2 linked regions of the Homo sapiens genome follow. The protein of the gene in region 1 purifies or fractionates together with the protein of each later gene. This does not show direct contact. Each region holds a gene or a part of one and is shown in the gene's direction. Other genes may lie near its edges. The genes, in order: BPTF and HMGXB4.

What was found.
Region 2: the proteins of BPTF (region 1) and HMGXB4 fractionate together in Homo sapiens (co-fractionation; 3 studies listed by BioGRID, with this or other methods). This does not show direct contact.

Annotation. Positions count from the first base shown.
Region 1 is NC_000017.11:67,975,495-67,979,414, forward strand, and holds part of BPTF (nucleosome-remodeling factor subunit BPTF), read left to right. Parts: intron 1-277; coding exon 278-464; intron 465-3,920. UniProt on the Homo sapiens protein: Regulatory subunit of the ATP-dependent NURF-1 and NURF-5 ISWI chromatin remodeling complexes, which form ordered nucleosome arrays on chromatin and facilitate access to DNA during DNA-templated processes such as DNA replication, transcription, and repair.
Region 2 is NC_000022.11:35,288,349-35,292,268, forward strand, and holds part of HMGXB4 (HMG domain-containing protein 4), read left to right. Parts: coding exon 1-59; intron 60-3,920. UniProt on the Homo sapiens protein: Negatively regulates Wnt/beta-catenin signaling during development.

The DNA of each region.
Region 1 (3,920 bases):
TTCAAACCATTTGAATGAAGAACGGTTCTGTGCAGTTACCTGAAAGTAAAAGAACCTTAACAGCAACCCGGATTTATATTTTAGAACCTCAATCAGAAACAAAATTGGAAAAGTACTCTTTTGTTCTTTATGAATTGCAAAATAACCTCCAGGGTGAACCAGCCTGGCTCCAGGACTGCTTGCACAGTAAACATATATACTTGTTAGAACTTCGGAGAATATTCACATTGGAAAAACCTTAAAGCTCTGAAAATGTTTTACATTTTGTGTTTTTAAGACCTTGCCACCATGGAAGAAAGAGTACAAAGACGATATTATGAAAAGCTGACGGAATTTGTGGCAGATATGACCAAAATTTTTGATAACTGTCGTTACTACAATCCAAGTGACTCCCCATTTTACCAGTGTGCAGAAGTTCTCGAATCATTCTTTGTACAGAAATTGAAAGGCTTCAAAGCTAGCAGGTGAGCAGATGGGTTCGGTATTCTGAATTAATTCAACTCTTCACACTCTTTATACTATTCTGTCTAACGATTCAACCAGTGCAGTTTATGGTAAATTTAACCTTAAATATCTTTAAAAAAAAAATAAATAAATCAAGACTCCAGGGTTATGATCTACTGCCAAGGAGAAGTGGACAAATTGCTGGGTTTGTTGTTGATCTACTTAAAGTCTTTTTTTGAAAATTCAAGAAGTGGCCGGGCATAGTGGCTCACGCCTGTAATCCCAACACTTTGGGAGGCCAAGGCAGGCAGATCACCTGAGGTCAGGAGTTCGAGCCCAGACTGGCCAACATGGGGAAACCCCGTCTCTACCAAAAATACAAAAATTAGCCAGGTGTGGTGACGCACGCATGTAATCTCAGCTACTTGGGAGGCCGAGGCACAAGAATCACTTGAACTTGGGAGGCGGAGGTTGCAGTGAGCCAAGATCACACCACTGCATTCCAGCCTGGGTGACAATGAGACTCTCACAGGAGGTGGGGGGAACATCCCAGCCTTGTCAACATAATGAGACCATGTCTCTACAAAAATTTAAAAAATTAACCAGGCATAGTGGCATGCACCTGTAGTCCTAGCTACTCAGGAGGCTGTGACAGGACGATCACTTGTGCCCAGGAGTTCAAGGCTGCCGTGAGCTGTGATTACACCACTGCTCTCCAACCTGAGTGACAGAGTGAGACCCTGTCTCAAAAAAAAAAAAAAAAAAAAAAAAAAAAAATAAGAATAAAAGAAGAATTTCCTGAGCTGATGATTGTCACAGGACTTTAAATTCTAGCAGAATAAATTCCTTCACTCAGCAAATAACTTTTGAGAACCTGATGTGTGCCTGATACTGGGAATTTAGCAGTGAATAAATTAAAGCCCCTGCACTCTATGAGGGGTGGGTGGAGCAAGGGGGACAGTTGATAAACATCATAAACCAGGTAGACAAATGGAAAAAGACTCACCCCTACATACATCGCTATAAAATTTCCAAATGCTAAGAATAAAAGAAACTCTTAGATAAAACCGACAATCTATAAAACAAGAATTAGATTGGTGTCAGATTTTTCTGCTGTGACATTTAGTGCTAGAAGATTATGGAAGAATAAATCTAAAAGTTTAAGAAAAAATGATTGTCAGCCTAGAAGTCTGTGCAGCCAGTCAAGTTTAGAGGCAGAATAAATATATTTTCAGTCATGTGAGGACTCAGGGCATCCTTTCTTGGCAGGTATTTTTAAAAAGTGTGTGCTATTGGCCAGGCATGGTGGCTCACGCCTGTAATCCCAGCACTTTGGGAGGCCAAGGTGGGTGGATCACTTGAGGTCAGCAGTTCAAGACCATCCAGACCAACATGGCAAAACCCCATCTCTCCTTAAAATACAAAAATTAGGCAGGCATAATGGTGCACGCCTGTAGTCTCAGCTACACAGGAGGCTGAGGCATGAGAATCGCTTGAACCCGGGAGGCACAGGCTGCAGTGAGCTGAGATTGCGCCACTGCATTCCAGCCTTGGTGTCAGAGTGAGACTCCATCTCAGAAGAAAAAAAAAAAGTGTGCTGTCAAAAATAAGGAAACAAATTTTTTCCTTTTAATAATGTATCTTCCTGTAATCCCAGCACTTTGGGAGGCCGAGGCGGGCGGATCACGAGGTCAGGAGATGGAGACCATCCTGGCTAACACGGTGAAACCCCGTCTCTACTAAAAATACAAAAAAATTAGCTGGGCGTGGTGGCACATGCCTGTAATCCCAGCTACTAGGGAGGCTGAGGCAAGAGAATCACTTGAATCTGGGAGGCGGAGCTTGCTGTGAGCCGAGAAGGCGCCACTGCACTCCAGCTTGGGCGACAGAGGGAGATTCCATCTCAAAAAAAAAAAGTATCTTTTTTTTTTTTGAGACGGAGTTTCACTCTTGTTGCCCAGGCTGGAGTGCAATGGCGCGATCTCGGCTCACCACAAGCCCCACCTCCCGGATTCAAGTGGTTCTCTTGCCTCAGCCTCCCTAGTAGCTGGGATTACAGGCATGTGCCACCACGCCCGGCTAATTTTGTATTTTTAGTAGAGACCTGGTTTCTCCATGTTGGTGAGGCTGGTCTCAAACTCCCGACCTCAGGTGTTCTGCCCACCTCGGCCTCCCAAAGTGCTGGGATTACGGGCGTGAGCCACCGCACCCGGCCATGATGTATCTTTTTATTTAGGGACAGGGTCTTGCTATGACCCAAGCTAATCTTGAACTCCTGAGCTCAAGCGATCCTCCCACCAGCCTTGGCCTCCCAAAGTGCTGGGGCTGTGAACCACTGTGCTGGGCCAGAAATATATATATATATATATATTTTTTTTGAGACAGAGTCTCACTCTGTTGCCCAGGCTGGAGTTCAGTGGCACAATCTCGGCTCGCTGCAACATCTGCCTCCTGGGTTCAAGCAATTCTGCTGCCTCAGCCTCCCAAGTAGCTGGGATTACAGGCAGCCACCACCATGCCCAGCTGATTTTTGTATTTTTAGTAGAGACGGGGTTTCACCATGTTGACCAAGCCGGTCTCAAACTGCAGACCTCGTGATCCGCCTGCCTCAGCCTCCCAAAGTGCTGGGATTACAGATGTGAGCCACCGTGCCCGGCCAGAAATTTTTGTTTATTTGAGTTCAGAAAACAAGTGGTTCAGGAAAGCAATGAGAATTACTCTGACCCAAGATGACATTTATACAGCAGGCTGTAAAATGTCAGCAGACCAAATCCTAGCAGGAGAATGGAGCACTCCCCAGAGGCTCAGTAGAGCAAGAAAATGACTCATACATTAGATAATTTGTTTAAGACAGAAAAACATAAGGCTATGATTAAGCCAAAGAACGTCAGGGATAAAAATGAAAGGCAATTAGAAACGCCACTAAAAACAGAAAGTTGTGTAAGTGTACCCTGTTAGCTGGGCACGGTGGCTCATGCCTGTAATCCCAACACATTGAGAGGCTGAGGCAAGAGGATGCTTGAGCCCAGGAATTCTAGACCAGCCTGGGCAACATGAGGAAACCCCATCTTTACAAAACACAAAAATTAGCCAGGCATGGTGATGTACACCTGTGGTCCCAGCTGCTTCAGAGGCTGAGGTGGGAGGATTGAGCCCATGAGGTAGACGCTGCAGTGAGCCATCTTCATGCCACTGCACTCCAGCCTGGAAGACACAACAAGACCCTGTCTCAAAAAAAAAAAAAAAAAAAAAGGCCCTGTTAGCAAAGGACTAGGTGCTACAGAGAAAAATATTTACATTTTCGTAGTAACGTAAATAATGACATTGGGCCGGGCACGGTGGTTTACATCTGTAATACCAACACTTTGGAAGGCCAAGGCACGTGGATCATCTGAGATCAGGAGTCGAGACCAGCCTGGCCAACATGATGAAACCCTGTCTCTACTAAAAGTACAAAAATTAGCCAGGTGTGGTTG
Region 2 (3,920 bases), on another chromosome or scaffold:
ATCTTCAGCTGTTGGGAGAGTCCCTAAGCCTCATTGGACACCGTCTGCAGGAAACTGAGGTGAATACAACTATCAGCAGCATGACTACAGTTTCCCATATAGTTTCCCATATAATTTTGATTCATTCACTCATTTTACATACATGTATTGAGCATCTACTTTATGCTAAATTATGCCAGGTTCTCAGGATGGCGTAACATAGAAGATATAATGATAATAACAGAAATATCTATAGAGATATTCAGTCTACCTGTTAGCTCTCAAAGTTTCACTAATGATATCCTATTGAAACAATGGCACAAAAAGAAATTGGAGTACCCTGTAACTTATTTTTATTTTTTTAAAATGCAGTGGAGGCTGGGCGCAGTGGCTCACGCCTGTAATGCTAATTTGGGAGGCCCACCTGGGAGAATCGCTTAAGGCCAAGAGTTCGAGACTAGCCTGGTCAACACAGTGAGACTCCATCTCAAAAAATACATATATTCAAAAAATTTAAAAGAAATAAAAATGGGGCCGGGCGTGGTGGCTTATGCCTGTAATCCCAGCACTTTGGGAGGCTGAGGCAGGCGGATCACGAGGTCAGGAGTTCAAGACCAGCCTGGCCAATATGGTGAAACCCTGTCTCTACTAAAAATACAAAAATTAGCCAGGTGTGGTGGCATGCACCTGTGGTCCCAGCTACTCGGGAGGCTGAGGCAAGAGAATCACTTGAACCTGGGAGGCAGAGGTTGCAGTGAGTCAAGATTGCGCTACTGTACTCCAGCCTGGGCGATAGAGCAAGACTCCATCACAAAAAAGAAAGAAAGAAAGAAAGAAAAACGCAGTGGTGGCTGGGCACGGTGGCCCATGTCTGTAATCCCAGCAATTTGGGAGACCAAGGCAGGAGGATCGCTTGAGGCCAGGAGTTGGAGAGCAGCCTGGGCAACATAGCGAGACCCCATTTCTACAAAAAATTAAAAAATTAGCCAGGCATGGTGGTGCACACCTGTAGTCCCAGCTACTCGGAAGGCTGAGGCAGATGGATTGCTTGAGCCCAGGAGCTCAAAGGCTGCAGTAAGCTATGATTGCTGCACTGCCCTCCAGCCTGGGTGACAGAGCAAGACCCTATCTTTTTTAAAAAAACAAAAACAAAAAGGCAAGAAAAAGGATGAGTACAAATTCCATAGCAGTTTTGATTACTTCTGTCTCCTTCTAAGAGACTTTGAATTTTTCTCTGCATTTCCAGCAAAGTCTTGAATATTCAATTGTATAGGAGATTAAGAGTTCCTCTGTTTTGAAAATAGGTAACAAATGGAGAAGTTAAGGTTCCCAGCTCTCCATTACTCTGCACTTAAATTATACAGTGCTATATGCCCTGGGGAGATTTTTGTCCTTTTAAGCTTCAATTTCAAAAATCACTTAACCTGCACAGCTGTCGTGTTTCATTTCTATTACCATATTCAATTTCTAACAATATTGTCCCCTTAGCTAACTCATTAGTATAGTAGTTCCGCTTTCCACCAAGTTCTAGTAAGACATTTCAGCAAAGAAGTCAGTCTAAGCTACTAAAGCCATTTTTAAGCTAAGAAATTAGTGTAGGAATGTAAAACTAATCACTTGCTTCAATGTGGAAATTGAATTATTCAACAAATAAAATGCCAAAGGCCACAAGAGCTGAAGCTATATCTAAATTCTTTGGCTAGTTTCTAAAAATTTTAGCAGTAGTCAAAAGAACTTCAGCACCTTCATATAGGCTCGATATCTGAATGGATATAGATATTTCCAGAAGAAGTATTCTATGACCTTACTTATTTTTCAGATTTAATCATTCTTACGTTTCGTAAGAAGTTAGAAGTAAAAACAGTTTGTTTTAAGCGTATTCTGAATTTTCCCAGATATTTCCATTTAGTTTAGTAAGTACAAAGTTCACCCTTTTAAAGTGCAGAATTTAGTGATTTTTAATATATTCACAGAATTGTGAATCACTACTATTTCATTCCAAAACATATTGTTACCCCTAAAAGAAACCCTGTACCAGCCAGGCGCGGTGGCTCACGCCTGTAATCCCAGCACTTTGGGAGGCCGAGGCAGGCAGATCATGAGGTCAGGAGATCGAGACCATCCTGGCAAACGTGGTGAAACCCCATCTCTACTAAAAATACAAAAAATTAGCTGGGCGTGGTGGCGGGCGCCTGTGAGAGGCTGAGGCAGGAGAATGGCGTGAACCCAGGAGGCGGAGCTTGCAGTGAGCCGAGATTGCGCCACTGCACTCCAGCCTGGGCGACGGAGCGAGACTCCGCCTCAAAAAAAAAAAAAAAAAAAAAAAGAAACCCTGTACCCATTGGCAGTTATTCCCCATTCTCCCTCTAATCCACTTTTGGCCCGAATTTAATCATTTGCATAGATCTCTGCAATTTTATAATTTCCACATACCACTTAATACTTTTACTTACTTTATAATTTTATTTAAATAAACTTGTCTGTGCTTTTACAGTGACATTCATGACATCTCAAGGGTTATATTCTATTTTTTTAATGTACATCGTAATGGACATATAATTATCAAAATAATATGTTCAGTAGTAAATTAATGTTCATCATTTTAGCAGTAAAACTGGAACATACAATGCATAAGTTAGAAAATTAAGGCTAGAGGCCGAGCACTGTTGCTTGTTCCTGTAATCCCAGGACTCTGGGAGCCAAAGTGGGAGGATCACCTGAGGCTAGCAGTTCGAGACCAGCCTGGCCAACATGGCAAAACCCCATCTCTACTAAAAATACAAAAATTAGCCAGTTGTGGTGGTGCACACCTGTAATCCTAGCTACTTGTGGGGCTAAGGCAGGAGAATCGCTTGAACCGGGAGGTGGAGGTTGCAGTGAGCCGAGATCACACCACTGCACTCCATCCAGCCTGGGCAACAGAGTGAGACCCTGTCTCAAAAAAAATAAAAATAAAAATTGTGCGTGTGTGTGGCGTGTGGTGTGTGTGTATCTTAAGAAAGTTAAAGCTAGAACCCAAATTGCAGAGGGACTTCATAGACATTCTGAAGTGTGTATACTTCACTGTTGGGGAACTACAGGGGTTTTTACAGTGGAAAGGGATGAGATCAGAGCTCTCATTTACTTTTCTCTGAGAATATCTTTTATTTTAGATTGGAAGTGAAAAGAGACCAGAATTGGGGAGAAGTTAAAACAATAATCCTAGTCTAGATGTGACAAAGATAAATTAGCTATAAATAAATATAGGGCAAAGGAAATGGAACAATATTACTAATTACTGACATTTTTGGGGTTTTAGCTATTATCTTCCCTGTATACTAATGTTTTATTGAAGGCTCACTCACCCAGCTTTGGTTCAGAGTGCTTAATATGAATTATATCATTTAATTCACACTGCAGCTTTGTGAGGCAGAATTTGTTCCCCCCATTTTACAGAAGAATAAACAGACTTAAAGAGGTGAAGTCACTTTCTCTAGAGTTTAGCCCCTAAGTGGTAAAATAGAGACTTGAATTTGGAATGTGACCTCAAGGTCCGGGTTCTTAACCTCTTACTGTACTGCTGCCCTCAGAAAGTATAGGGGGGAGATGTTGACAAGGAGGATGAGGGAAAGGAAGAGTCAGTGATGGCTAGGCCTTGAGACTGGGCAGTTATGTGAATGGTGGTGACTTTGGCAGAGAAATGGATGCTCAAAGGAGGGCTAGATTTGCATGGGAAGGTTATTCTTCCTTACAGGAAGTTGAGATGGAGAAATATCCAAAAGGAGAGACCCAAAAGACAGCCAGAAATGCAGTTTTGAAGATCAAGATGTTGGTAGTAATATTCATAATTACTGATATTTTTTGAGTACTTAACCATGTATTAAGCACCATCCCAAGTATATTATATCTATTATCTCAATCCCATCTGCTGCAGATGCTGTTAGTATCTTACAGGCACAGCA